Regions from separate parts of the Homo sapiens genome. Here region 2 is linked to region 1. Evidence: fine-mapped expression QTL. A gene starts in region 1. The other region holds a variant in brackets. All regions are shown on one strand. Distances are between the middles of the regions.

Region 1 (15,075 bases):
TTGCTGTGTCACCCAGGCTAGAGTGCAGTGGCGCAATCTTGGCTCACTGAAACTTCTGCCACCTGGGTTCAAGCGAGCACGTCTGGTTAATTTTTGTATTTTTAGTAGAGACGGGGTTTCATCATGTTGGCCAGGCTGGTCTCGAACTCCTGACCTCCAGTGATCCACCCGCCTCAGTCTCCCAAAGTGCTGGGATTACAGACGTGAGCCACTGCACCCAGCTGTTCACCACCTTCTTACTTTGTTCAGGGCCTTAGTCCAAAGCCCAAGCCCCAACTCACTTGCTACTCTCCCTCAACACCTGTTGCAGGATCCATTATTACCTGTGGCTTACAGTCAAAGAAGCCTCTCTACTGCTGTAAAGGCAAGAGGAAAACTAATGGAGGTATGTTCTTCTGCCCTAAATTAAAACACTAATTACATTTGCTCACTTAAAAAGCAATTTATAGGCCGGGTGCAGTGGCTCACGCCTGTAATCCCAGCACTTTGGGAGGCCGAGGCAGGCGGATCACAAGGTCAGGAGATCGAGATCATCCTGGCTAACACAGTGAAACCCCGTCTCTACAAAAAATACAAAAAAAGCTCTCCCTCCCCCTCCCCCTCGTCTGCGTCTCCCGCTTTCCACCGTCTCCCTCTGTTGCCGAGGCTGGACTGTACTGCAGCGATCTGGGATCGTTGCAGCCTCCCTGCCTGACTACAGGCGTGCGCCGCCACGCCTGACTGGTTTTTGTATTTTTTGGTGGAGACGGGGTTTCGCCGTGTTGGCCGGGCTGGTCTCCGCTCCTGACCTCGAGTGATCTGCCCGCCTCGGCCTCCCGAGGTGCCGGGATTCCAGACGGAGTCTCGCTCACTCAGTGCTCAATGCTGCCCAGGCTGGAGTGCAGTGGCGTGATCTCGGCTCGCTACAACCTCCACCTCCCAGCTGCCTGCCTTGGCCTCCCAAAGTGCTGAGATTGCAGCCTCTGCCCGGCTGCCACCCCGTCTAGGAATTGAGGAGCGTCTCTGCCTGGCTGCCCATCCCCTGGGATGTGGGGAAGCACCTCTGCCCGGCCGCCCCGTCTGGGATGTGAGGAGCGCCTCTGCTCGGCCGCTACTCCGTCTGGGAGGTGAGGAGCACCGCTGCCCGGCCGCCACCCCGTCTGGGAGGTGAGGAGCGCCTCTGCCCGGCCACGACCCCGTCTGGGAACTGAGGAGCGCCTCCGCCAGGCCGCCCGCATCTGGGAAGTAAGGAGCCCCTCTGCCCTGCCGCCACCCTGTCTGGGAGGTGTACCCAACAGTTCATTGAGAACGGGCCATGATGACGATGGCGGTTTTGTCGAATAGAAAACGGGGAAATGTGGGGAAAAGAAAGAGAGATCAGATTGTTACTGTGTCTGTGTAGAAAGAAGTAGACATAGGAGACTCCATTTTGTTCTGTACTAAGAAAAATTCTTCTGCCTTGGGATGCTATTAATCTATAACCTTACCCCCAACCCCGTGCTCTCTGAAACATGTGCTGTGTCCCCTCAGGGTTAAATGGATTAAGGGCGGTGCAAGATGTGCTTTGTTAAACAGATGCTTGAAGGCAGCATGCTCGTTAAGAGTCATCACCACTCCCTAATCTCAAGTACCCAGGGACACAAAACACTGAGGAAGGCCGCAGGGTCCTCTGCCTAGGAAAACCAGAGACCCTTGTTCACATGTTTATCTGCTGACCTTCTCTCCACTATTGTCCTATGACCCCGCCAAATACCCCTCTCTGAGAAACACCCAAGAATGATCAATAAATACTAAAAAAATTAAAAAAATAAAATAAAGCAAAATAAAAACACACAAAAAAAATTAGGTGGGCGTGGTGGCCGGCGCCAGTAGTCCCAGCTACTCAGGAGGCTGAGGCAGGAGAATGGCATGAACCCGGGAGGCGGAGCTTGCAGTGAGCAGAGATTGCGCCACTGCACTCCAGCCTGGGCGACAGAGCGAGACTCCGTCTCAAAAAAAAAAAAAAAGCAATTTATACACACACACACAATTGGGGTTAGGATTGGTACTATCTGATTCAAAAGTTAAACAGAATTTGATAGGCTAGTCTGAGAATATTATCCCTACAGGGAAACATTCAAAGCAATAAAGCTACTTTGAAAGGACATGTCCAAAAGTTTTCATCATCTATAACAAAATCATTGTCAAATACTACTTACATTCTTTAGAAAAAAGTCTCTTTCTTTTACCCTGTCCACCTTCTGCACCTCCTCCAATTTCTTCATTTTCTTCCTCAAACTAGAAGTTAAAATGTATATATAGAAATGTCAAATAATTGCCTTGCATTTGATATTTTAATAATGACATTTTTTTTTCCTTTTCAACAGATAGGCCAGAAAGCCAAAGGAAGCAGCAAAAAAAAAAACCACGAAACCTTAGCATTGAAGGAGCCTATGTATCTAGTCCAACTTCCAACTCATGCAAAAATGGCTTCTACAATGTTCCTAACTAATAATCCTACTGCTTCTACTTGTAAGAGTTCCAATGACCATAAGTTTTATTTTTAAACAACTAAGGTGGCCTATTACTACTGTTACTGTTAAACAGTTGATACTGAATCAAAGTCTACCTTTGTAGACTTTGTAGTAAGCAAAACTAATATTTCCTATGCATTTGCTTATACAGTGCTAAAAACGTTCCTTAAGTAAGCCCGTAACCCTATTTTATAAAAAGAAAACTGATGTTCAAAGTTAAATAACTTGCTCAGAGAGAATGGAAATTTTGAAATCCAGGCTGTCTGACTTTCAATGCATTCTTTTCCCATTACTTCACAGTAAGTACAGTTTTGTTAACAATTGAACTGTTGGCTCATAGTGCGCGCTAATAGATGTTAGTTTTGATCTCTGATGATTCTGTACGTGTTTCAGTGTCTGGCAAATACAGACCAAAATCAAGGGGAAAGGGGTCACAAAACCTACTCTTCCTTCATGTCCTTCCCCACTTTCTAAAATGATCAATCCTTAGGGCGTGAAGTCCCCGAACTCTGTCCGCTGAATTCACTAAGGCAAGCAGACCCGATCCTGAACTCTGCCTCCGCTACTGAGCCCGAAGGAGTGAAGAAAAGACAGGTTTTGGACAGAGACGGTCACTCACCGTGGGGTCTTCTTCCTCATCTGCCATCCCACTAGCACGCCAACTCACAGCGTCCTGCCGGCTGGCTCCCAGCTGGTTACACTACTTCCGCCGCCTCACTTCCGGTGACGCGCGGGGCCGTAGCTGGGCCTAGCCCTCTGCGGCCTGCGGGAGGACGGTGGTGCTTTCCGGCCTAGCGGCGGAAATGCGACAGTCTCTAAGGGAGGAGGCCGGAGCGCCTCCCTGTAATCCCGAAGGAATTGAAAACTAACAAAGAAAAGGAAATCACGGGCTAGGTCGCGAGTATCTCGTTGTCACCCTGAATTTGCTACTGCGTATTGAATCACAGCTTCTTGTTTGGGGACTGCGAAGCTATGGATCATAGGAGGGCAAGCCAGCAGTCCTTTATCAGACAAATATGCTTTTAAATCATTTTAAAGATTTGTAGTTCCACTGTTTCTAAGCACTGTGTTAATTATTGGGGATACTGTGCTTCATCACAAATTTCCAAGAGATGGTGTCCCGAGACTAAGCATTTAAAATTTTGTGAAGGTTTTTTGATTTTTTTTTTTTTTTTTTTTGAGACGAAGTCTCACTCTGTCGCCCAGGCTGAAGTGTGCAGTGGCGCGATCCCGGCCCACTGCAACCTCTGCCTCCCGGGCTCAAGTGATTCTCCTTCCTCAGCCTCCCGAGTAGCTGGGATTACAGGCGTGCGCCACCATGCCCGGCCTTATTTTTGTTTTTTTGAGACACAACCTCACTGTCCCCCGGGATGGAGTGAAGTGGCGCAATCAGGGTTCACTGCAGCCTAGACCTGCTGGGCTCAAGCCATCCTCCCACCTCAGCCTCCAAGTAGCTGGGATTACAGGCGCACACCACCAATGCCCAGCTAATTTTTGTATTTTTAGTAGAGATGGGGTTTCCCCACATTGCCCAGGCTGGTCTGGAACTCATGGCCTCAAGCGATCTGCCCCGCTCTGCCTCCCAAAGTGCTGGGATTACAAGTGTGAGCCACCGTGTCCACCGGGGAAGGCTTTTGGTCAGAACAATGGCTGGCAAAACCACAGGCATCGGAAGGCCAGAGCTAGGGATATAATATAAATGTCCCTACAGTGTAACAGATGATGCTACATAAAGAAAATCCCGTAATACACACGATTTCTGAATGTCCTGCTGAACATTCGGTGAGTGAAAACTAATTATCTGAGAGTTGAACCTATCTTTGTTAATAAACACAAAGCGGCCGGGCGCAGTGGCTCACGCCTGTAATCCCAGCACTTTGGGAGGCCGAGGTGGGCGGATCACAAAGTCAGGAGATCAAGACCATCCTGGCCAACATGATGAAACCCCGTCTCTATTAAAAGTACAAAAATTAGCTGGGCGTAGTGGCGCACGCCTGTAATCCCAGCTACTCGGGAGGCTGAGGCAGGAGAATCGCTTGAACCCGGGAGGCAGAGGTTGCAGTGAGCCGGGATTGTGCCACTGCACTCCAGCCTGGTGACAGAGCGGGACTCCACCTCAAAAAATAAAAATTAAAAAAATAAACACAAAGCATTTTCCCACACTTTTAATGTACGTTGAAGTTTCTAGGAATGTTATTACCCCAAAATTGAATAGTAATTGTATTTTGTTTGGTCTGGAATTCATTAAGAGCTGTGTACCATTTCAAGAAATAACGTCACCAAAAGCAACATCACTTGTAATAATTTGAATAGTGAATAATGAAAAAATAACTTTGATTTGAGGAATGTGAGTTAAATTATTAGGCCCAAAGAGGCATTAAAATGAGAGGCAATCACATCCTGCTTGCCCCCTTTTGAGCTATGTATTTATGTCTTAAAACCGCTTGCTATTGCCACAAGTATTAGTTATAAATTAGCCTAATTATGCCCCATCAGACACCATATCGCACACCCTATAGCTTGATAATGTTTAGCCAATTACTAATCAATGTTATTTTTGTGAACCAATGAGAACTCCTTAAAGACAACTTTGTATCAGCCCACTCCCTGTCCTCATTCTTTTCCTTTAAAAATCCACTTGTACCTGCTGCTAATCTTAGAGTGTATATTCTAGGCAACTTTATGCTGCTGAGTTGTAATCCTCAAGTTTGGCCCAAATAAACTCTCTATTTATATTAATTTTGCCTCAGCTTCTTCCTTTTAGGTCGACAATACTCACCCAAATCAGTCTGCATTCAAAGCAATTCTACATATAGGTAGAAGCATCTGAAATCTTCATTATCCCCCCCTAGTGCCATCATACCTGAGTATTTATATATTGAAACAAATGTTACTATTTTTACTTTACTTTTATATTACCTTTATGCCTGACCTCCTGGCCACTGGATCACTGGATCCTGTTAGGATATTATGTTATTTTCAAAATTATGTGAGTAGGTAGATATATTAGTTATTTATTGCTGTAACAAATTACCCCAAAACTTAGTGGCTTAAAACAAATATCACACAGTTTCTGTGGGTCAGCAATGTGGGTGCAATTTAACTGGGTGCCTGTGGCTCAAGGTCCCTCCTGTTGCAGTCGGGATGTTGGCTGGGGCTGCAGTCATACCTCAAGTGTTGATGGAGGAGAATTTGCCAGAGTCACTCACAGGTTGCTGGAGGTTTCACTTCCTCCAGGTTGTTGGACTAAGGGCCTCAGTTCTTTAATGGATGTTGCCCAGAGGTCTCCCTCAGTTCCTTGCCATGTAATCCACTCCATAGGGCAGCTCACAATGTGCCAGTTGCCTTCCTCCAGAGGACACAAGTGGGAGAACCCAAAAGACAGAAATCACAGGTTTTTTGTTACCTAATTTTGGAAGTGACATCCTATAATTTCTGCCCTATTCTATTCACTAGAAGTAAGTAAAAAAGTGCAGCTAGGGCTGGGCGCAGTGGCTCACACCTGTAATCCCAGCACTTTGGGAGGCCGAGGTGGGCGGATCAGGAGGTCAGGAGTTTGAGACCAGCCTGGCCAACATGGTGAAACCCTGTCTCTACTAAAAATACAAAAATTAGCCGGGTGTGGTGATGCACACCTGTAATCCTAGCTACTCAGGAGGCTGAGACAGGAGAATTGCTTGAACCCGGGAGGCGGAGGTTGCAGTGAGCTGAGATGGTGCCACTGCACTCCAGCCTGGCCGACAAAGCAAGACTCCATCTCAGAAAAAAAAAAAAAAAGTGCAGCCCAAGTTCAAGGAGAGGGGATTACATAAGGGCAAGAATATTGCTGGGGAGATCACTGGGGGCTTTCTGAGAGGTCACCTACCACAGTAAATTATATTATTTTTGAATTTCACTACACAATAATGGAGACACTGTATTTGTTATTAATATTTAAAGGAGATTGTTGAGCCTGATAGGTTTGAGAACTGCTTTTAGGTAGTGATCCAGTGTCCAGGAGGTCAGGCATAAAACATTCATAGTGTCTGTTATCAGTGGAGTAGATAGGTAAAATATGCTGGATGCACAGCACGGAGTACAATGCAGCAATCAGAAGCAATAGATTTAGCAACATGGACAGAACTTGAAAACAGTGCTAAGTTAAAAAAGAAACAATAAAATCTATAATATAATACCATTTATAGAAATTAAAAATACTACTTATTTTAAAGGAAAATATAAAAAAGCGTAAACATTAAACACACTAGAAAGTTGCAGTGTAGGAGAAATGGGAATAAGGATAAAAGGAATAAATTGATAAATAAAAAGTGAAGGACTTTGGAAGGGCCAATTGTAATACTATGCCATGAGCTGCGGCATGTGAATAATTCAATCCTGTGAACCTGAGATCCAAAACACAAAGTGGGGGAAAAAAAATTGCAGTGTCAGTCCAGGCGTGGTGGCTCACGCCTATAATCCCTGCACTTTGGGAGGCCGAGGCGGGCGGATCACGAGGTCAGGAGATTGAGACCATCCTGGCTAACACAGTGAAACCCTGTCTCTACTAAAAAAAATACAAAAAATTAGCCGGGCGTGGTGTCGGGCGCCTGTAGTTCCACCTACTTGGGAGGCTGAGGCAGGAGAATGGCATGAACCCGGGAGGCGGAGCTTGCAGTGAGCCGAGATCGCGCCGCTGTACTCCAGCCTGGGCAACAGAGCAAGCCTCCGTCTCAAAAAAAAAAAAAATTGCAGTGTGATAAGCAGAGCAGAAGGAAAACACAGAGTAAAAAGTCATGGTGTGCTTCTACAAGATGTTCTCTGTGGGTTGCCAGAGCCAAGTTTTTTGGGTGGGGATGCAGGAAACGAGGCTGGAATTTGCGTGTGAAAGGCCTTAAATGTTCTCTTCAGAGACTGAACTTCAAACTACAGAGTTCTTGGGAAGTCTTTAAACAGATGTGTCACATGACTTTACAGTTTTTAAAAAGATCACTTTTGCGGGGAAACTAGGATGAGAGATGATTATAATCTGAATTAAGGCAAAGAGGAAGAAGGAACTGATTTAACACAAACTTTACGAGACAATTTACAGGACTTTGTGACAATGAATGTGAAAGCTATTGACAGAAGAATGGAATGCTATTAATATAAATAGGAAAGAAAAAGGGGAAAGAAGTTGGAAGTGGAAGGAAATGAGTTTAGTCTGTGTTTGAGAGTCTGGAGATGTACTAAAACTGATGGAAATCCAGGCCAGGAATTACAGGCCCGGAAATCCACAGAAAAATTAGTACTAGAAGCCGGGTGTGGTGGCTCACGCATGTAATCCTAGCACTTTGGGAGGCCAAGGTGGGTGGACTCCCTGAGCTCAGGAGTTCGAGACCAGCCTGGGCAACATGGTGAAACCCTGTCTCTACTAAAACACACACACACAAAAAGAAAGAAAGAAAGAAAGAAAAATTAGTACTAGAGAAAATGACATGGGAGATACCATCACAAAGTGATAGTCTAGAGATTGCACGGAAACAAAGGCTGAGAGAATAGAGGCAAAGGGCACAGCCTTAGAAACAGTACATCAAGGAGACAGAGTGACAGAAGGAATAGTCAAAGAGGTAGGAAAAGATAAAAGTAGGATAAGGAGGAGGAGAGGGAGGAGAAAAACTGAAAACCCAAAAAGAAAAAGTTTCAAAAAGAAGCAGGTTTGGGCTGATCACTTGAGGTCAGGAGTTTCAGACCAGGCTGGCCAACATGATGAAAACCTGTCTCTACTAAAAATACAAAAAATAAAAATAAAATAAAAAAATTAGCCAGATGTGGTGGCGAGCACCTGTAGTCCCAGTTGCTCGGGAGGCTAAGGAAGAAGAACAGCTAGAACCGAGGAGGCGGAGGTTGCAGTGAGCCAAGATCATGCCACTGCACTCCAGCCTGGGTAACAGAGCAAGACTCTGTCTCAAAACAAAACAAAACAAAACCAACAAAGAAAAGCAGGTGGCATGGAGTGCTCAGTGCCAGAGATTACAAGATTGAAGATTTCTCTTTTTTTTTTTTTTTTTTTTGAGACAGAGTCTCGCTGTGTCGCCCAGGCTGGAGTGCAGTGGCTTGATCTCGGCTCACTGCAAGCTCCGCCTCCCGGGTTCATGCCATTCTCCTGCCTCAGGCTCCCGAATGGCTGGGACTACAGGCGCCTGCCACCGCGCCCGGCTAATTTTTTTTTGTATTTTTAGTAGAGATGGTGTTTCACCGTGTTAGCCAGGATGGTCTCGATCTCCTGACCTCGTGATCCGCCCACCTCGGCCTCCCAAAGTGCTGGGATTACAGGCTTGAGCCACCGCGCCCGGCCACAAGATTGAAGATTTAAGAAAAGGCCTTGGATTTGACAATTAGGAGGTATGGGAATGATCTGGAGAACAAAGTTTGAGGGTGTTGGTGAAGATGGAAGCCAGATTATAACAGGTTAAAGAACGAGTACATAGTTGGATACTGAAGGTAGAAAAGCAAAGAGGAAAGTAGCCTTAAGAGGGCAGTAAAGGCCGGGAGCGGTGGCTCACTCCTGTAATCCCAGCACTTTGGGAGGCCGAGGTGGGCGGATCAAGCGGTCAAGAGATTGAGACCATCCTGGCTAACATGGTGAAACCCCGTCTCTACTAAAAATACAAAAATTAGCTGGGCGTGGTGGCACGCACCTGTAGTCCCAGCTACTTGGGAAGCTGAGGCAGGAGAATCGCTTGAACCCGGGAGGCAGAGGTTGCAGTGAGCCGAGATCATGCCACCGCACTCCAGCCTGGCAACAAGAGCGAGATTCCGTCTCAAAAAAAAAAAGAAAGAAAAAAGAGGGCATTAGGACCTAGGAATGTGGACTTTGAATAAATGATTACTGAATGAATGAAGCTGTGAACTTATCCCAGCCATTTAGCTAACTGCTCAGAAAATCCTGTTTTTCATTACAGCAAAAAAATGGAATGAGCTTTTAATGAAAAAGGTAATGACCAAAGAGATTTGTTCACAAAAGAATGGAATCAGCAGAGAGGTAATTGATAGAAGGAAGAAATGGAGCTCTATGAGAGTAATTTGGAAGGAATGGCAGGGGTGGGATTATCAGAAATGAGGAAAGCAGGAGCTGGATGGTGGGTCTGAGAGGTGTTAGTGATGGGATATTGGTAGGCAGGTAGCACCACTCAGACTCCAAATCAAGGCAGAAGCTTTGCAGTCCCACCCCTACCTCCACTTTCACCCCTCCATCCCAGGGTGTAGACGTCTACAGTGCTTCTCCCTAATTTGGGCTTAGTGAGGTTATGTCACTTTTAAAATGGCTTTCAGAATTTCTGCAATAATCTTAATGGAGTCTTAACCACACTTCCTATGGTCCATGGTTAAATATGCAGACTCTGAGATCAGATAGGTTGAGTCTGAAATCCTAGGTGTACTATTTATCAGCTATGTTACCTTGAGACAACTTACTTGACCTGCTGGTACACCCATTTCCTCATCTATGACAGGGGGATAATAATAGTTACTAACCATATAAGGTTATTATGAGGTTATTAGATGTGTTAATAACCATAAAGTGTTTTGGGTAGTACCTGGCATGTAGTGAATATTCCATAAGTATCATTGTTTTTATTTTTTTTTATTTTTTGAGATGGAGTTTCACTCTTGTTGCCCAGGCTGGAGTGCAATGGTGCAATCTTGGTTAACGGCAACCTCTGCCTCCCGGGTTCAAGTGATTCTCCTGCCTCAGCCTCCCGAGTAGCTGGGATTACAGGCATGGGCCACCACGCCTGGCTAATTTTGTATTTTAGTAGAGATGGGGTTTCTCCATGTTGGTCAGACTGGTCTTGAACTCCCGACCTCAGGTGATCCGCCCGCCTTGGCCTCCCAAAGTGCTGGGAGTACAGGTATGGGCCACCGTGCCCGGCAGTTGTTTTTATTTAAGGGCCTACCTTTCACCATTATCTTCTGCTGTTCTCCTTCATGAGCTCTGCATTCCAGTTCCACAAGGCCACATTCAACTATTCATGCAATAAATATTCATGAAGCACTTGCAAAATGTTTAGCACTAGCTATGGGATTGTGGATAAAATGACAAAACAAATGAACATTACAATATAGCAGGGGGACATAAGTTAAACAGATATAGTATGCTTTGGAAACATGATCAGGGAAGTAGACTGAAGGTCCGAGAAGTCTACCTTGAGCAAGTGAGGTCTGAGTTGGGACTTGAGGGATGAATGTGAGTTAGCCATTGAAGGAGGAAGGGAGGCTTTACTGTGCCCCAATCTTACCTTACACTTTCCCTCTCCAGGGCTTTGATGGCTCAATTCCCTCCCCACTAGAATGCTCTTTATTTCTGCTTATTGAAATGCTATAAGCTTTTCAGGCCCAGCTAAAATGTCTGCTCCTCAATAAAGCCTTCCCTGAACGCTCCAGCTGAAGGCAGTTTCCCATTTCTACGCACCCCCCCGCCACCCTGGCACTTAGTTTTCATTTTCCTTGGACACTTCTCACTTTCTGCTGTATTTTTTGGTTATTTATAAACACAGCTTATCTTTTTCTACTAAATCTTAAACTTTTTAAGAACAGAGTCTATTTCTCATTCATCTTTGAGTTCCCAAAGGCTAGCACATTCCTTAGATTTAGAAGTCCTGGAACAAATGTTTGTAGCATAAATTAATGCCTATTTGACATCCCTTTTCAAATATGTTGTAATTCAAATGAAGCTATTGTTGCAAGCTGTGCCTTTGAGGCTCAACTTACTCTTTGGTTAAACCAGAATGCCACAGTCATGGTCCCCATGACTGATTAGTGTTCACCACAATAACTGCAACAACCCTAACAAACAGGCCACTGTTCTTGACTGACAGGCGTTTGGCAACAACTACCAATTCTCCAGTGAACACTGAAATGAATTGAGGAAGAACTGTCTGAATTGAGAGTCCCTAGGCCAGTAGGCTCTATTTATTCTTTGCAGTTGGGCTGCAAGAGCTGGTCACCCAGGCTTTGGCCTGATGTGAGACATGACTGCACTGGGTGGCAGTGAGGCTATGAGACTTTCCAGGGTGACAGAAACATTAATGATTGTAACAAAATAATCAAAGATCAGTATCAGTGGAAAGCACTGTAATTTGAGGCAGTGTGATAACAAGGGAAAGGGAGCTTTGAACTTAGACCTGGGTATGGATCCTAACAGGCTATGTTATCTCACCCACGTCCCTTCTTTAAGTCTCAAGATTTAATTAAAAAAAAAATCTGTAAAACAGTTGTGAAAATCAAAGATACTGTCTTTACACAATGCTCATGTTCTATTAAAATGTGTTTATTCATCTATCTTACCCAACATATTTTCTTCTCTGAGGGCAGGGACTTATTTATGCCCCATTTCTGCAAAATCAAGCAAAGTGCTTAGCACACAGTAGTAGACACTGACAAGTACTTTTTTTTTTTTTTTGAGACAGGGTCTCGCTCTGTTATCCAGGCTGGAGTGCAGCAGTACAATCATGACTCACTGCAACTTCCACTTCCAGGGCTGAGGTGATTCTGCTACCTCAGCCTCCCGTGTAGCTGGGACCACAGGCATGCATCACCATGCCTGGGTAATTTTTTTATTTTTTGTAGAGACAGACTTTCACTATATTGTGCAGGCCAGTCTTGAACTCTTGAGCTCAAGCGATCCGCCCACCTCAGTGCCCAAAGTGCTGGGGCTACAGGCGTGAGCCACCAGGCCAACCACAGATACTTTTAAAACAAATTGTAGCAGGAGGAGCCTCAGACAAAACTCCTCAGACACCGAGTTAAAGAAGGAAGGGGTTTGTTCGGCTGGGAGCATCGGCAAGCCTCCTGTCTCAAGAGCCGAGCTCTTCAGGTGCTCAACTTGTGCTTTTAAGGGCTCACAACTCTAAGGGGATCCACATGAGAGGGTCATGATCGATTGAGCAAGCTAGGGGGTACATGACAGGGGCTGCAAGCACCAGTGGTCAGAGCGAAACAGAACAGAACTGGAGGTTTCACAATGTCTTTCCATACAATATATGGAATCTATAGATAACATCAGTTGCTAAGTCACGGGTCGAATTTTAACTACCAGGCTTAGGTCAGGCAGGCCTAGGCCTGGTTTCAGGTGTGGTTCCTAGGCACTGGGCTACCTGCCTTTAGTTTCTCTTCTCTTTCCTTTTCTGAGTATAGAACAATATGAGAGGGTCTCTCTCTTCCCTCAAAATGAACAACAATAATAGCTATCATTTATGGAATACTTACTCATGTCAGATATTGTTGTAAATAGTAATTCACTTAATCCTCCAACAACCTTAGAAAGGAACTAACTTAATTTCACAGAAAACTGAACTTTTTTTTTTTTTGAGACGGGGTCTCACTCTGTCACCAGGCTGGAGTGCAGTGGCGCGACCTCAACTCACTGCAACCTCCTCCTCCCGTGTTCAAGCGATTCCCCTGCCTCAGCCTCCCGAGTAGCTGGGACTACAGGTGCGTGCCACCACGCCCAGTTAATTTTTGTATTTTTAGTAGAGACGGGGTTTCACCATGTTGGCCAGGATGATCTCAATCTCTTGACGTGATCTGCCTGCCTCGGCCTCCCAAAGTGCTGGGATTACAGGCATGAGCCACCGCACCTGGTCAACTTTTTGATTTTAGAATATAAAAGTCTTGATACAACTAATTTTGAAATAGCCTGGTGAGACTCACTCTATTCAATTAAAAAAATGTAAAATATCTTTTACAATATGAAAAAGAAAAAATATGGTGGAGGGAGAAAGAAGAAATAAATTTAAGAGTGGGAGAAAAAAAGTAGGAAGAATAGAGACAGACGTGGAAAATGAAGAAAAAGTAAATTTTGAGTGGAGTTAAAAGAAAACTGTTTAATCATAAGATACTGTGTGCATTATCACTGCCCTTTAGAAATAGTAATTTGAGGCCGGGCACGGTGGCTCATGCCTGTAATCCCAGCACTTTGGAGCCCGAGGCAGGTGGATCATGAGGTCAGGAGATCAAGACCATCCTGGTCAACACGGTGAAACCCCGTCTCTACTAAAAATACAAAAAATTAGCCGGGCGTGGTGGCGGGCGCCTGTAGTCCCAGCTACTTCGGAGGCTGAGGCAGGAGAATGGCGGGAACCTGGGAGGCGGAGCTTGCAGTGGGCCGAGATGGCGCCACTGTACTCCAGCCTGGGCGACAGAGCGAGACTCTGTCTCAAAGCTAAAATAAAATAAAATAAAAATTGGAATTTGCCACTGGGTGTGGTGGCTCACGCCTGTAATCCCAGCACTTTGGAAGGCCGAGGCGGGCGGATCACGAGGTCAGGAGTTCAAGACCAGCCTGGCCAACGTAGTGAAACCCCATCTCTACTAAAAATACAAAACTTAGCCGGACACGATGGCGCATGCCTGTAGTTCCAGCTACTCCGGAGGAGAGGCAGAAGAATTGCTTGAACCCAGGAAGCAGAGGTTGCAGTGAGCAGTGATTGCACCACTGCACTCCAGCTTGGGCAACAGAGTGAGACTTTGTCTCAAAAAAAAAAAATTGTAATTTGCCAATTCATCACTCCTCCTGGTTTTTCAGCTTTGATTTCATCCTTAATTTTTTTTTTCTGTTTATGAGACACAGTCTTGCTCTGTCTCCCAGGCTGGAGTGCAGTGGCGTGATCTCAGCTTAATGCAACCTCTGCCTCCCCGGTTCAAGTGATTATCCTGCCTCAGCATCCCGAGTAGCTGGGATTACAGACAGACACCACCACACCCAGCTAATTGTTGTATTTTTAGTAAAGACAGGGTTTCACGATGTTGCCAGGCTGGTCTCCAACTCCTGACCCCAAGTGATCCACCTGTCTCGGTCTCCCAAAGTGCTGGGATTACAGGTGTGAGCCACCATGCCCAGCCTTTACATTTTATTCTTTTTTTTTTTTTTTTTGAGAGGGAGTCTCACTCTGTTGTCCAGGCTGGAGTACAGTGGCACAATCTCGGCTCACTGCAACCTTCGCCTCCCAGTCTGAAGCGATTCTCCCTCCTGCCTTAGCCACCTGAGTAGCTGGGATTGGAGGCTCACGCCCCCATGCCCGGCTAATTTTTGTGTTTTTAGTTTTGTGTTTTTAGACAAGGTTTCACCATGTTGGCCAGGCTGGTCTTGAACTCCTGACCTCAGGTGATCTGCCCACCTTGGCCTCCCAAAGTGCTGGGATTACAGGCGTGAGTCATTGCGCCCGGGCTTAACTTTTTTTTTTTTTTTTTTTTTTTTTTTTTTTTGTGGTGGAGTCTCACTCTGTTGCCCAGGCTGGAGTGCAATGGCACAATCTCGGCTCACTGCAATATCCGTCTCCCAGGTTCAAGTGATTCTTTCGCCTCAGCTTCCTGAGTAGCTGGGATTACAGGCACCTGCCACCACTCCCGGCTAATTTTTTTGAATTTTTAGTAGACACGGGGTTTCACCATGCTGGCCAGGCTGGTCTCGAACTCCCGACCTCAGGTGATCCTCCCGCCTCGGCCTCCCAAAGTGTTGAGATTACAGGCGTGAGCCCCTGCGCCCAGCTGATTAACTTTTATTCTAACCTCTGAGAATGACAGAAGAGGAAAGACTTGTCTTTCAGAGTATGACAAAAACTGAAGA
Region 2 (15,499 bases), 24 kb before region 1:
CCTGCATATTTAGCTGTTTTGGAACGCAGTTGATTCCTTCTTGAGTTGCAAATATAAGACTGCCACAGTTACATCAGAAGGAAGGAAGGAAGGAAGGGAGGGAGGGAGGGAGGGAGTGAGGGAGGGAGGGAGGAGGGAAGGAAGGGAAAGAAAAGGAAAGAAGGGAGGGAGGGACGGAGGGGGGAAGGAAGGGAAAGAAAAGGAAGGAAGGAAGGAGAGAAGGAAGGAAGGAAGGAAAGAAGGAAGGGAAAGAAAAGAAAGGAAGGAAGGAAGGAAAACCCCAGTGAAGTATTAGATTGGCTTTGGCATTCATTGAACACAAAATGAAATGCTTTGCTTATGTTCTCATTTAAGCCTCATAATCTCCCTTAAAACACCTATTAATTATTCCTATTTGAGTGATTAAAGAAAATAACTTGCCCAAGGTCACACAGCTAGTATGTAGCAGAGACATTCTGACTCTTAAAACTTTCTTTTTCTATTCTACCACATTAGTATGATTTCTTATCTTTGAGAGGGAGTCTCACCTAGGCTGAAGTGCAGTGGTGCAATCTCACCTCACTTCGAGCTCTCCCTCCCTGGTTCAAGCGATTGTCCTGCCTCAGCCTCCCAAGTAGCTAGGATTACAGGCGTGCACCACCACACCCAGCTAATTTTTTGTATTTTTAGTAGAGACGGGGTCTTACTGTGTTGGCCAGGCTGGTCTCAAACTCCTGACCTCAAGTGATCTGCCAGCCTCACCCTCCAAAGTGCTGGGATTAGAGGCATCAGCCGCCGTGCCCTGCCTCATTCTACATTATATTAACTGAAAATTTTATTTTAGTATTTATTTATTTATTTAAGAGACAGAGTCTCACTTTCTCACCCAGGCTAAAGTGTCACCTAGGCTGGAGTATAGTGGCATGATTATAGCTCACCACAGTCTCAAACTCCTGGGCTCAAACTATCCTCTAGCCTCAGCTTCTTGAGTAGCTGGGATTACAGGCATGAGCCACCTTGCCTGGCTAATTGTTCTAAGAAATTTTGAGCCAGATGGCCGGGCACGGTGGCTCATGCCTGTAATCCCAGCACTTTGGGAGGCCGAGGCGGGTGGATCACAAGGTCAGGAGATTGAGACCATCCTGGCTAACGTGGTGAAACCCCGTCTCTACTAAAAATACAAAAAGTTAGCTGGGCATGGTGGCAGGTGCCTGTAGTCCCAATTACTCGAGAGGCTGAGGCAGGAGAATGGCGTGAACCTGGGAGGCGGCGGAGCCTGCAGTGAGCTGAGATGGCGCCACTGCACACCAGCCTGGGCGACAGGGCGAGACTCCATCTCAAAAAAAAAAGAAATTTTGGGCCAGACACAGTGGCTCATGCCCGTAATCCCAGCACTTTGGGAGGCCAAGGTGGGAGGATCCCTTGAGCCCAGGAGTTCGAGACCAGCCTGGGCAACATAGTGGGACCCCATCTCAACTAAAAATAAAAATAAAAAAAATAGCCTGCCATGGTAACACGTTATCCCAACTACTGGAGAGACTGAGGCAGGAGGATCGCTTGAGTCTGGAAGGTCAAGGATTGCAGTGACCCATGATTGTGTCACTGCACTCCCTCTCAAAGTGCTGGGATTATAGGCTTAAGCCACCATGCTCAGCCAGAAATTTTAGCTTGAATAAAATGGACCCTATTCTGACAAGGTAGAGAAGATAAGAGGTCTTATTAGTGTTTATATTCTCCATAACCTATAGCATAGTGCTATTTGCATATGCATTTTCAATGAATAGGACTCAACATTGTTAGAAGCAAATATACCACCATTATATTTCTGGAAAAAAGAAGGTGGAAGGAGAGAAAGAAAGAGGCACCGAAACACAAGACATCTGGTACATCTTATCACTTGCATACTTATAAACGCATTGACTGTATATTTGTTTCTTAATGTAACATCAAAGTTTACACTACAACCTTAATAGCTGGTAGCCTAAGGTATCACCTTTCCTTCTATACTCAGCCACACTGGTTAAGATTAGATCTTCCTGTCTTTCACTCTAGTTGCTGCAATAGCAGTCAATTGTTCAAAGAGGACAAGGCTTGCTTAGATGAAGGACTGTCCTCAGATTCCAAGGTACTGCCTCAATCATTCACCAAATATTAACTGAATGCCAGTTCTGGGTCAGGAACTAGGTTAGGCATCATTTGGAAATGCAGGTTCTTACATGACAGAATGATTCATGGTGCCTTGTGACTTAAACGCCTATAGGCTAAGGTGGACCTCTTTTAATGTGATTCTTAAATGTTATCTCTAAAAAGGAGAATAGGAGTTTTTGGTTTTCCCCAAATAGGAGAAAGGAGTCTGAGTACAAGCCCAAGCTAGGAAACTTTGCCTCAAGGAATTCAGGGGAAGTTTGTGGAGCTAAGAGAACGTGTTTTAGAAGCTCCACTCCCATTACTAGAACACGCACATACATACACACATCAAAAAGCTTTGTGCTTCAGAGCCAGTAGCACCTAACCAAGATATGGAATTAACCTAAGTGAGGCTTTAGGAGAACAAAGCACCACCACTGCTGCTTCTCCTTTAAACAGATTCAAGGGCCAGGCACCGCGGCTCACGCCTGTAATCCCAACACTTTGGGAAGCTGAGAGGGGCGGATCACCTGAGGTCAGGAGTTTGAGACCAGCCTGGCCAATATGGAGAAACCCTGTCTCTACTGAAAAATGCAAAAATTAGCAGGGCGTGGTGGCGCACGTTTGAACCCAAGAGGCAGAGGTTGGAGTGAGCTGAGATCGCGCCACTGCACTCCAATCTGGGCAACAGAGGTAGAATTACCTGGGTCTTCCAGGGCTCCTATCTAGACCTCTAAACAAAAACTTGGTTGTACATAAAAGAGATATGCTGTTATTTATATTAAGTAAATATCTGATATATTCTTGAAAATAAAAATAAAATAAATTATTTTGGAAAACATCCACTTTAATCAAGTCAGTGAAATATGTAAATTTTTTTTTTTTTTTTGAGACAGAGTCTCGCTCTGTCGCCCCAGCTGGAGTGCAGTGGCACAATCTCAGCTCACTGCAAGCTCTGCCTCCCGGGTTCACGCCATTCTCCTGCCTCAGCCACCCGAGTAGCTGGGACTACAGGCGCCCACCACCACACCCAGCTAATTTTTTGTGTTTTTTTTTTTTAGTAGAGACAGGGTTTCACCGTGTTAGCCAGGATGGTCTTGATTTCCTGACCTCGTGATCCACCTGCCTCGGCCTCCCAAAGTGCTGGGATTACATGCGTGAGCCACCGTGCCTGGCCATATGTCAAAATTTTTAAAAGGGGAAACTAAATGTTAGGAAATGTTAGTAATACCTAAAGCACATTAAGCATCATAATTTCAGATAAGTGTTTTAGGATAAGGTTAGAAAGTTTCCGGTAATAAACTTGTGACCATTTAGTAGAACTTCCTATAAAGATGGAAGAAATGTCATAATCACCAAAACAAGTCTTGATTGGTGTCTTATAAGTTCATATGCCTCCAAAATACTTACAAAAACCCTATTTCAGAAAAAATAAGTATAGTATTAGCATTTCTTTTAGAGCTTGGTCAGTAACTATACAGGCTCTTTCCAATAAAATTTCAGTTATTTATCTAAAATGGCCATGCAAATACAAATTGAAAAATGATTTTTGCTTTAGCAATTGTTCTGATCCTAAAAGAATGTACCCAATGATATCAAGGCAGTCTACCAGGTTCTCTGTGTAAGCAGAAATAATCATAATATTAGGTATAACCATAATAAAGTATTATACATGGAAGTCTCAGTGCTACAAATAACATGAGATTTTGTACAAAAGTTCAAATAGGAACTTCTATCAATCTACTGGTAACACATAAGAAATTTGCTCCTTACTTTATTTCATTGTATTTAGTTATTTGAGACTGGACCTTGCTTTGTTGCCCAGGCTGGAGTGCAGTGGTGTAATCTCAGCTCACTGCAACCTCCACCTCCGAGGCTCAAGCAATCCTCCCACCTCAGCCTCCTCAGTAGCTGGGTCTACAGGCGCCCGTCACCACACACAGCTAATTTTTGTAGAGACAGGGTTTTGCCATGTTGCCCAGGCTGGTCTCAAACTCCTTGGCTCAAGTGATCTGCCTGCCTAGGTCTCCCAAAGTGTTGGGATTATAGGCATGAGCCACCTCACCCAGCCCTATTTCTAACTTTAGAATTCCACTTATCAGAATCACACCTGTAATCCCAGCACTTTGAAAGGCTGAGGTGGGCAATCACTTGAGGTCAGGAGTTCCAGACCAGCCTGGCCAACACTGTGAAATCTTGTCTCTACAAAAATTAGTTGGGCTCCCTCCCCCTCCCACTCTTCCTTTCCCTCTTTGCACGGTCTCCCCTCTGATGCCGAGCAGAGGCTGGACTGTACTGCCGCCATCTCGGCTCACTGCAGCCTCCCTGCCTGATTGTCCTGCCTCAGCCTGAAGAGTGCCTGGGATTGCAAGCGCGCGCAGCCACGCCTGACTGGTTTTTGCATTTTTTGGTGGAGACGGGGTTTCGCCGTGTTGGCCGGGCTGGTCTCCAGCTCCTGACATGGAGTGATCTGCCCGCCTCGGCCTCCCGAGGTGCCGGGATTGCAGACGGAGTCTCGCTCACTCAGTGCTCAATGTTGCCCAGGCTGGAGTGCAGTGGCGTGATCTGGGCTGGCTACAACCTCCACCTCCCAGCCGCCTGCCTTGGTCTCCCAAAGTGCCGAGATTGCAGCCTCTGCCCCGCCGCCACCCCGTCTGGGAAGTGAGGAGCGTCTGACTGGCCGCCCATCCTCTGGGATGTGAGGAGCCCCTCTGCCCGGCCGCCCAGTCTGGGAAGTGAGGAGCGCCTCTTCCCGGCCGCCATCCCGTCTAGGAAGTGAGGAGCGTCTCTGCCCGGCCGCCCATCATCTGAGATGTGGGGAGCGCCTCTGCCCCGCCGCCCCATCTGGGATGTGAGGAGCGCCTCTGCCCGGCCGCGACCCCGTCTGGGAACTGAGGAGCCTCTCGGCCCGACCGCCACCCCGTCCGGGAGGTGAGGAGCGTCTCTGCCCGGCCGCCCCGTCTGAGAAGTGAGGAGCCCCTCCGCCCGGCAGTCACCCCGTCTGGGAAGTGAGGAGCCCCTTCGCCCAGCAGCCGCCCCATCTGGGAAGTGAGGAGCGTCTCCGCCCGGCAGCTGCCCCGTCCAGGAGGTGGGGGGCAGCCCCCACCCGGCCAGCCGCCCCGTCCAGGAGGGAGGTCGTGGGCAACCCCCGCCCGGCCAGCCGCCCCGTCCGGGAGGGTGGTGGGGGACGCCTCTGCCCGGCTGCCCCGTCTGGGAAGTGAGGAGCCCCTCTGCCCGGCCGCCACCCCGTCTGGGAGGTGTACCCAACAGCTCATTGAGAACGGGCCATGATGACGATGGCGGTTTTGTCGAATAGAAAAGGGGGAAATGTGGGGAAAAGAAAGAGAGAGCAGATTGTTACTGTGTCTGTGTAGAAAGAAGTAGACATGGGAGACTCCATTTTGTTCTGTACTAAGAAAAATTCTTCTGCTTTGGGATCCTGTTAATCTATAACCTTACCCCCAACCCCGTGCTCTCTGAAACATGTGCTGTGTCCCCTCAGGGTTAAATGGATTAAGGGCGGTGCAAGATGTGCTTTGTTAAACAGATGCTTGAAGGCAGCATGCTCCTTAAGAGTCATCACCACTCCCTAATCTCAAGTACCCAGGGACACAAAACACTGAGGAAGGCCGCAGGGTCCTCTGCCTAGGAAAACCAGAGACCCTTGTTCACATGTTTATCTGCTGACCTTCCCTCCACTATTGTCCTATGACCCTGCCAAATCCCCCTCTCTGAGAAACACCCAAGAATGATCAATAAATACTAAAAAAAAAAAAATTAGTTGGGCATGATGTCGTGCCCCTGTAGTCCCAGCTACAGGAGGCTGAGGCAGGAGGATCATTTGAACCTGGGAGGTGGAGGTTGCAGCAAGCCGAGGTTGCACCACTGCACTCCAGCCTGGGTGACAGAGCAAGACTCTGTCTTGGAAAAAAAAAAAATGCCAGGCGTGGTGGTTCACGCCCAAAGTAATTCCAACACTTTGGGAGGCCGAGGCGGGTGGATCATGAGGTCAGGAATTCGAGACCAGCCTGGCCAACATAGTGAAATTCTGTCTCTACTAAAAATACAAAAATTAAGCCAGGCGCGGTAGCTCATGCCTGTAATTCCAGTACTTTGGGAGGCCGAAGCAGGCAGATCACGAGGTCAGGAGTTTGAGACCAGCCTGGCCAACATGGTGAAACCCCATCTCTACTAAAAATACAGAAATTAGCTGGGTAGGAGAATCGCTGGAAACCGGAAGGTGGAGGTTGCAGTGAGCCAAGATTGCATCACTGTACTCCAACCTGGGAAACAAGAGCAAAACTCCGTCTCAAAAATAAAATACAAATAAAATACAAAAATAAAAATACAAAAATTAGCCAGGTGTGGTGGCACAAGCCTGTAGTCCCAGCTACTCGGGAGGCTGAGGCAGGAGAATCGCTTGAACCCAGGAGGCAGAGCTTGCAGTGAGCCGAGACCATGCCATTGCACTCCAGCCTGGGTGACAGAGTGAGACTCCGTCTCAAAAAAAAAAAAAAAAAGAATTCCACTTACTCCACTTATCTGGATACCACATAACAAAATGATACCTATGCTGTCTCAGATACAATAGGTGTTTAATAAATACTCAATATATGAAAACGTTTTCCTTGAACCAATCCCATAATTTTTGTGTTTCTTTTTGTTTTTGTTTTTGTTTTTTTTTTTTTTTTTTTTTTTTTTTTTTTTTTTTTTTTTGAGACGGAGTCTCGCTGTCGCCCAGGCTGGAGTGCAGTGGCGCAATCTCGGCTCACTGCAGGCTCCGCCCCCTGGGGTTCACGCCATTCTCCTGCCTCAGCCTCCCGAGTAGCTGGGACTACAGGCGCCCGCCACCTCGCCCGGCTAATTTTTTGTATTTTTAGTAGAGACGGGGTTTCACCGTGTTAGCCAGGATGGTCTCGATCTCCTGACCTCGTGATCCGCCCGCCTCGGCCTCCCAAAGTGCTGGGATTACAGGCGTGAGCCACCGCGCCCGGCCTTGTTTTTGTTTTTTTTTGAGACGGAGTTTCACTCTTGTTACCCAGGCTAGAGTGCAATGGCGCGATCTCAGCTCACCACAACCTCCGCCTCCTGGGTTCAAGCAATTCTTCTGCCTCAGCCTCCCGAGTACCTGGGATTACAGGTGTGTGCCACCATGCCTGGCTAATTTTGTATTTTTAGTAGAGACGGGGTTTCTGCATATTGGACAGGCTAGTCTCAAACTCCTGACCTCAGGTGATCTGCCCGCCTCGGCCTCCCAAAGTGCTGGGATTACAGGTGTGAGCTACTGCGCCTGGCCTTTTTCTTTTTTTTTAAGAGACAGGGTTTCAGTATATTGCCCAGGCTGATCTTGAATTCCTGGCCTCAAATGAATCTCCCACCTTGGCTTCCAGAGGTGCTAGATTTACAG[G/A]ACTGGGCAGATTTTTTCATTTTTTTTATTTTTGAGATAGGGTCTCCTTTTGTTGCCCAGGCTGGAGTGCAGTGGTGCAATCATAGCTGACTGTAACCTCGAACTCCTGGACTCAAGTGATCCTCCCATCTAGGACCACTCCTCCCAAGTACCTAGGACTCCAAGGGCGTGCCACTGCACCTCGCTAATTTTATTTCTTATTTTTGTAGAGATAGGGCCCAGACTGCCCTATCGCATAATTTAATGGTGTGAATAACTCATGTAGTCATTTACAAGGGCCCAGGAAAAGCAGCAGCCTTCAACAACACATTTAACACTTTGTTCCCTGATCATCCACACTTCCAGTATCTATTTGTGGCAAGAAGGAAAACATGGGGACTGTAAGAAAATCAGACCTAGAGAAATGGGTGTGTTCTGTGATGTAGGCAGGGCTTTAAAAAGTTTTTGGTTTTAGGCTGGGTGCGGTGCCTCAAACTTGTAATCCCAGCACTTTGGGAGGATGAGGCGGGTGGATGGCTTAAGTCCAAGAGTTCAAGATGAGCCTGGGCAACATGGCAGGACCTCATCTCTTTAAGAAAAAAAAAAATTAGGCAGGGCACAATGGCTCACGCCTGTAATCCCAGCACTTTGGGAGGCCAGCGCGGGCGGATCACGAGGTCAGGGGTTCGAGACCAGCCTAACCAACATGGTGAAAACCCGTCTCTACTAAAAATACAAAAATTAGCCGGGTGTGGTGGCGGGCACCTGTAATTCCAGCTACTCAGGAGGCCGAGGCAGGAGAATCGCTTGAATCTGGGAGGCAGAAGTTGTAGTGAGCCAAGATCGCCCCACTGCACTCCAGCCTGGGCAGCAGAGTGAGACTCCATCTCAAAAATAAATAAATAAATAAATAAAAATAAAAATAATTAAATGGGCGTGTGTGTAAAAAAATAAAACAATGTAATAATAATAGAAATAAAGTGCACAATAAATGTAATGCGCTTGAATCATCACGAAACCATCCCCCCATCACCCTCACCCCAGTCCGTAGAAAAACTGTCTTCCACAAAACTGGTCCCTGGTACAAAAAAGGTTGGGGACCACTGCTCTAGACGATGCATTCATGTAACTCCTCTCACTGTCATTCACCCTCATAATTTTGTTTTCATTTCCTACATGTGTATGTCTAGAGAAGGAAGAATGTGCTGATCATATAGGTGCAAGTTTTACTTACATCTATAAACTGGTATCCGTTTTCATACATTGGTCTTATAAGTTTGGATTCTATGAGCGCACCCACAGAGATGAATGTGCTATTTGCTGATGAAATCAGTTTCTAAGCCTGCAATGCTGCAAATCAAACTCTGGCTCTGGACTATAGTATACTCATTCAAGTAATGCAACCTCCCAAAGTCTCTTGGAAAATGGCCAGATGACTCTCCAGGCAGCACCTTTCTCCACTGATGACAGGCCAAGTGAGCTCTTTCCTCCACTTTAAAATTTCTACACTTACACTATTACAGTTTTTACTCAAGAACACCATTTCCGGCCGGGCATGGTGGCTCACGCCTGTAATCCCAGCACTTTGGGAGGCTGAGGCAGGTGGATCACCTGAGGTCAGGAGTTTGAGACCAGCCTGGCCAACATGGCGAAACCCCTGTCTCTACTAAAAAAGTACAAAAATTAGTTGGGTATGGTGGCACCTGCCTGTGATCCCTGCTACTCAGGAGGCTGAGGCAGGAGAATTGTTTGAACCTGGGAGGTAGAGGTTGTGGTGAGCCAAGATCACGCCACTGCACTCCAGCCTGGGCAACAGAGTGAGACTCGGTCTCAAAAAAAAAGAGAGAGTGCTTCAATAAAATTGGAGGCTGGGCACCGTGGCTCATGCCTATAATCCCAGAACTTTGGGAATCTGAGGCAGAAGAATGGCTTGAGGACAGGAGTTCAAGGCCAGCCTGGGCAACATAGTGAGACTCCATCTCTACAAAATTAAGAAAAAAATTAGCCAGGTGCAGTGTAGTCTTAACTACTTGGGAGGCTGAGGCATGAGGATGACGAACCCAAGAGTTCAAGGCTGCAGTGAGCTATGATCCTGCCACTGCACTCCCGCCTGAGTGACAGAGCAAGACCCTGTCTCTAACAACAACAACAAAAAGCCACAAAGCTTGGAGGGAATTACTATAGATTAAAAGAAATTTAGACATACCAAACAAATGCAATGGGTGACACCTTGTTTAGATCCTACTTCAAAGACAATGTGGGAAGCAGAATAATAACCCCTCACAGATGTCTACTTCCTTTAGCTAGGCATAGTGGTGTGTTGCCTATAGCCCTAGCTACTCTGTAGGCTGAGGCAGGAGGATTGCTTGACAGGAGTTGGAGGCTGCAGTGAGCTATGATCACTCCAGCCTGGGTCACAAAGCGAGACCCCATCTCAAAAAAAAAAAAAAAAAAAGTCCACATCCTAATTCCCAGGACCTGAGAATATGTTACTTGACATGGTAAAAAGAGATTTTGCTTCCATGATTAACTTAAGAACCTTGAAATGGGGAGAGTATTCTGGGTTATCCAGGTGGGTCCAATATCACAGAGAATCCTTACCAGCTGGAGTCACAGGCCAGGGAGATGCAACATTGCTAGCTAGCTTTGAAGAAGGGTAACATGAGCCAAGAAATGTAGCCTTTACAAGTTGTAAAAGGCAAGCAAACAGGTGTCTCCTAGAACATCCAGAAAGGAACACAACTGTGTCAGCACCTTGATTTTAGCACAGTAAGGCTAGGGTCAAACTTTTTTTTTTTTTTTTTGAGGTGGAGTCTCACTCTGTTGCCCAGGCTGGAGTGCAGTGGCGCAATCTCGGCTCACTGCAAGCTCTGCCTCCTGGGTTCGCACCATTCTCCTGCCTCAGCCTCCCGAGTAGCTGGGACTACATGTGCCCACCACCATGCCAGGCTAATTTTTTTGTATTTTTTAGTACAGACGGGGTTTCACTGTGTTAGCCAGGATGGTCTCGATCTCCTGACCTCGTGATCCGAGCTAGGGTCAAACTTCTTACCTAGAGAACTAGTTAAATAATAAATGTGTGTTAAGTCACTAAATGAGCTGTAATTTGTTACAGTAACAATTGAGATTAATACACACACTCAAAAAAGATATGTTGAGACAAATCAGCAAGATTTAAACCAGGATTTGGCATCAGGCACTGTGGCTCACGCCTGCAATCATTCCAGTACTTTGGCAGGACTAAGGCAGGAGGATTGCTTTAACCCAGGAGTTCAAGACCAGCCTGGGCAACATAGTGAGACCTGTCTCTCTACAAAAAAATTTTAAAAATTACCCAGTTGTGGTGCTGCACACCTGTAGTCCTAGCCACTTGGGAGGTTAAGGTGGGAGGACTGCTTGAACCCAGGAGGCAAAGGCTGTAGTAAGCCATGATCATGCCACTGCACTCTAGCCTGGGCAACAGAGCAAGACCCTATTTCAAAAAAATAAAAAAATTAACAGGAATTGGGTATTAGATGGAATATTGAGGAATTAGTGTTAATTTTTGATAGGATATGGTAATAATATGTGGGCTTTTTAAACTTTGTTAGAAATATGTGCTGAAGCTCAGGCACATTGGCTCATACCTGTAATCCCAACACTTTGGGAGGCTGAGGCAGGTGGATCACTTGAGGTCAGGAATTCAAGACGAGCCTAGCCAACATGGTGAAACCCCATCTCTACTAAAAATACAAAAATTCGCTGGGCATGGTAGCAGATGCCTGTAATCCCAGCTACTCGGGAGGCTGAGGCAGGAAAATCGCATGAACCCAGGAGGTGGAGGTTGCAGTGAGCCAAGATCGTGCCACTGCACTCCAGCCTGGGTGACAGAGTGAGACTATGTCACAAAAAAAAAAAAAAAAAAAGATATGTACTGAAGCATTTATAGATGAAATGATACAAGGATGTCTGGGATTTGCTTTTGTTTTTATTTTTTATTTTTTTGAGATGGAGTCTCACTCTTGTTGCCCAGGCTGGAGTGCAATGGCACGATCTTGGCTCACTGCAACCTCTACCACCCGAGTTCAAGGGATTCTTTTGCCTGACTCTCGAATAGTTGGGATTACAGGCTCCCGCGACTATGCCCATCTAATTTTTGTATTTTTATTAGAGACAGGGTTTCACTGTGTTGGCCAGGCTGGTCTTGAACTCCTGACCTCAGGTGATCCATTCGCCTTGGCCTCCCAAAGTTTTGGGAATATAGGCATGAGCCATCGCACCCAGCCAGATTTGCTTTAAAATAATACTGCCCCCCTACCTTAAAAAAGGTAAGGGTTCTAAAACCAAGGTCCAAAATTAAAAATAAGAAAATTATTTAAAGGTAGGGGGATAGGACAAATTGGCAAAAAGTTGGTTACTTGTTGAAGCTGGGGGCTAGTTACACTATTATTGTGTATACTTGAGATTTTCCATAGGAAGTTTAAAAAAAAGTGAATTAATTTAGGAGAGAGCACCTATATATACTCCAGATCAGCACTGTCCAAAAGAATTTTCTGTGATGATGGCAGTGTTCCATATCAGCACTGTCCAATGCTGTACCCACTTACCATAAGGGTTTTGAGCACTTGAAATATAGCAAACGCAACTAAGGAAGTGAATTTTTCATTTTATTATCATTTTTTAAATATTTTATTTTTTGAGACAGAGTCTCACTCTGTTGCCCAGTCTGGAGTGCAGTGGTACGATCTCGGATCACTGCAGCCTCTGCCTCCTGGGTTCAAGCAATTCTCCTGCCTCAGCCACCCGAGTAGCTGGGATTACAGGCACGTACCACCACACCCGGCTAATTTTTGTATTTTTGGTAGAGATGGTGTTTCATCATGTTGGCCAGGCTGGTCTTGAACTTCTGACCTCAAGTGATCTGCCTGTCTTGGCCTCCTAAAAAGCTGGGATTACAGGCGTGAGCTACCGCACCCAGCTGAATTTTTCATTTTAAAATGTAAACAGCCATATGTGGCTAGTGGCTACCATTTACACAGTGCAGCTCTAAATACTGGAAGACAGCCATGCCACCTTACTACCAGAATTTGAAGTTAATAAGTAAGCTCAGGCATCAAGTCAGCCCGCCGAGCCTCTTTCCCCTTTTTGCTAATAGCAGTATCTAGTATCCCAATCCCATTCCAAGCTCTTTTTTACCAGAAGTGGGGCAAGAGATCCGGGCTATAGTACAACTTCTTCCTGGCCATAGTGACTGGTCCAGGAAGAAAATAAGCAGAGCTCGGATCCTCATAATCCTTGCTTGGAATTTTCTCTATTACGAAGTAAAGCAGCTTCTTCAATTTGGAGTTGTAAGGAGGGAACCCCAGAACTGCTGGCCATCATGTTCATTTGCCACTCTTAGAATAAAACCAAAATTAGGATAAAAGACAGAGAGACAGTCTTGCTTCTCAAGTACTTAGATCCAGTCAACCCTAAATTCAGCTCCATCCCCTTTCCCATGTGTCGGTTAGGTAAGCCAATAAATTCCTTGTTTATGCTATTAATAGTATTGAGTTAAGTTATATCACTTGCAACCTAAAATAGTCAACGCAAAGCCCCACTCAGTCTGGGCAACACAGTGAAATAGGTTCTCTAGCCAGGCATGCCTGTAGTCCCAGCTACTCGGGAGGCTGAGGTGGGAGGATTATTTGAGCACAGGAGGTCGAGGCAGTGAGCAGTGATTGTGCCACTGCACTCCAGCCTGGGTGACAGAGTGAGCAGTTTACTGAAGCCTTGACCTCTCAGGCTCAAGTGATTCTCCCACCTCACCTCCTGAGTAGCTAGGACCACAAGCGGAAACCACTGTGCCTGGCTCTTTTTTTTTTTTTACAGAGATGGGGCTTGCCTAGGCTGGTCTCCAACTCCTGGGCTCAAGCAATCCTCTCGCCTCAGCCTCCCAAGCAGCTGGGACTACAGGCATGCCACCACGCCCGGCTAATTTTTTTGTATTTTTAGTAGAGACAGGGTTTCACCATGTTGGCCAGGCTGGTCTGGAACTCCTGACCTCAAGTGATCCACCTGCCTTGGCCTCCCAAAGTGCTGGGATTACAAGTGTGAGGCACTGTGCCTGGCCTTGATTTTTAGTTGAGATGGGGTCTCTCTATGTTGCCCAGACTGGTCTCCAACTCCTGGGCTCAAGAGATCCTCCTGCCTAGGCCTCCCAAAGTGCTGGGATTATAGGCATGGGCCATGGTGCCCAGTCCTGCTTTTTTTTTTTTTTTTTTTTTTTGATACGGGGTCTCGCTCTGTCCCCCAGGCTGAAGTGCAGTGGCGTGATCTTGGCTCACTGCAAGCTCCGCCTCCCGGGTTCACGCCATTCTCCTGCCTCAGCCTCCCGAGTAGCTGGGACTACAGGCGCCCGCCACCACACCCGGCTAAGTTTTTTTGTATTTTTTAGTAGAGATGGGGTTTCACCGTGTTAGCCAGGATGGTCTCGATCTCCTGACCTCATGATCCACCTGCCTCGGCCTCCCAAAGTGCTGGGATTACAGGCTTGAGCCACCGCGCCCGGCCCAGTCCTGCTTTTTTAAATGAAAAGATTCACCCAGATACTCACTGAAATAAAAAAAATTTTCAGCTAGACTAAGCAGCAAGAATTATCATATTACCAGTAATGGGCATAATATTCTGGGAGGAAAAAAAGTCACAAATCAGTCAGATTCAAGGATCAACCTGTTTAATTGTTCATATTTTATTCCTGTATCAGTAGATTAAGAAAGTAAAATTTTCCCAAGCACTGATTTATAGATCATGTTTATAAGCAGCATACAAAAAGTTAAGTTTCATAAACAATAACATTCAGTGATCTACTTAAATCCAATTGTAATCCTTACTTTAAACTAAGGGCAATAATAATTTAATACATAGAGTAAATACACACAAAACCTGTGTATTCAGAACTACAAACATGGTTTCCATAGCCACGTATGGTTTTAGTCAAGGACACATTTCCACAATGAACAAGTACTTACAAATATGTTAATAAAACACTAACCCAAATGCTTACCCTGCCATCAGCTTTTTAAACAATGCCATTCCTGCTACTGAAAGCATTTATTTTTAGAAGCTTGAATCTGCTCTGGGAAAACGGGTTCTCCTAAAACTTAACAGGATGTTATAAATCCGAAAAGATTTTAAATCAAAAAGCCTTCCAACACAGCATTATTCATGTGAAACTTGCTTTCTTTTTTTTTTTTTTGAGACGGAGTCTCGCTCTGTCGCCCAGGCTGGAGTGCAGTGGTGCGATCTCGGCTCACTGCAAGCTCCGCCTCCCAGGTTTACGCCATTCTCCTGCCTCAGCCTCCCAAGTAGCTGGGACTACAGGCGCCTGCCACCGCGCCCGGCTAATTTTTTGTATTTTTAGTAGAGACGGGGTTTCACCGTGTTAGCCAGGATGGTTTCGATCTCCTGACCTCGTGATCCGCCCGCCTTGGCCTCCCAAAGTGCTGGGATTACAGGCGTGAGCCACCGCGCCCGGCCCGTGAAACTTGCTTTCTTAAAAAATAATAATAACTTGTTATCTGAAGAAAATTAAAAGATTATCTTTTAAGAGAGATAAACATTCTTACAAAAAACTATATTTTCCTCTATCATCTCTTTAAAAGAAATGCAAACCAGTTCATTATCTTTGTTTTTTTGAGAGTCACACTCTATTGCCCAGGCTGGAGTGCAGTGGCGCCATCTCGGCTCACTGCAATCTCTGCCTCCTGGGTTCAAGCAATTCTTCTGCCTCAGCCTCCCAAGTAGCTGGGATTACAGGCACATGCCTCCATGCCTGGCTAATTTTTTAATTTTTAGTAGAGGTGAGGTTTTGCCATGTTGGCCAGGCTGGTCTGGAACTCCTGGCCTCAAGTGATCTGCCCGCCTCAGCCTCCCAAAGTGCTGGGATTACAGGTGTGAGCCACCACGCCCGGCCTAGTTCATTATCTTTAATAATGAACTAGACAATAAACTAATTGTTGTCTAAAAACTTCTGAATACATGAAGTAC

Alleles and levels. Alleles are on the strand shown, and positions count from the first base shown. SD is a standard deviation of normalised expression in the study named.
For the expression in subcutaneous fat of the gene that starts at base 3,194 in region 1, allele G in region 2 goes with a lower level than allele A (moderate effect, 0.59 SD a copy in TwinsUK).

Evidence for each region.
Region 2: its variant is fine-mapped to the expression of TAF13 in subcutaneous fat (TwinsUK, PIP 0.95).

What each region holds. Positions count from the first base shown.
Region 1 is chr1:109,072,810-109,087,884 of GRCh38, forward strand. TAF13 (TATA-box binding protein associated factor 13) reads right to left here and starts at 3,194. Exons shown (of 4, transcript NM_005645.4): 1 at 3,112-3,194; 2 at 2,178-2,256. The coding sequence starts at 3,138. It overlaps TMEM167B-DT (TMEM167B divergent transcript), which reads right to left and starts at 11,941. Exons shown (of 2, transcript XR_947688.3): 1 at 10,406-11,941; 2 at 5,483-5,837. RefSeq lists enhancers at 1,451-2,437, 3,042-3,101, 3,202-3,451.
Region 2 is chr1:109,048,317-109,063,815 of GRCh38, forward strand. No RefSeq gene overlaps it. Among named protein-coding and RNA genes, the nearest start is that of WDR47, 14 kb to the left of the region's middle. The variant G/A (reference allele first, on the strand shown) is at 7,514.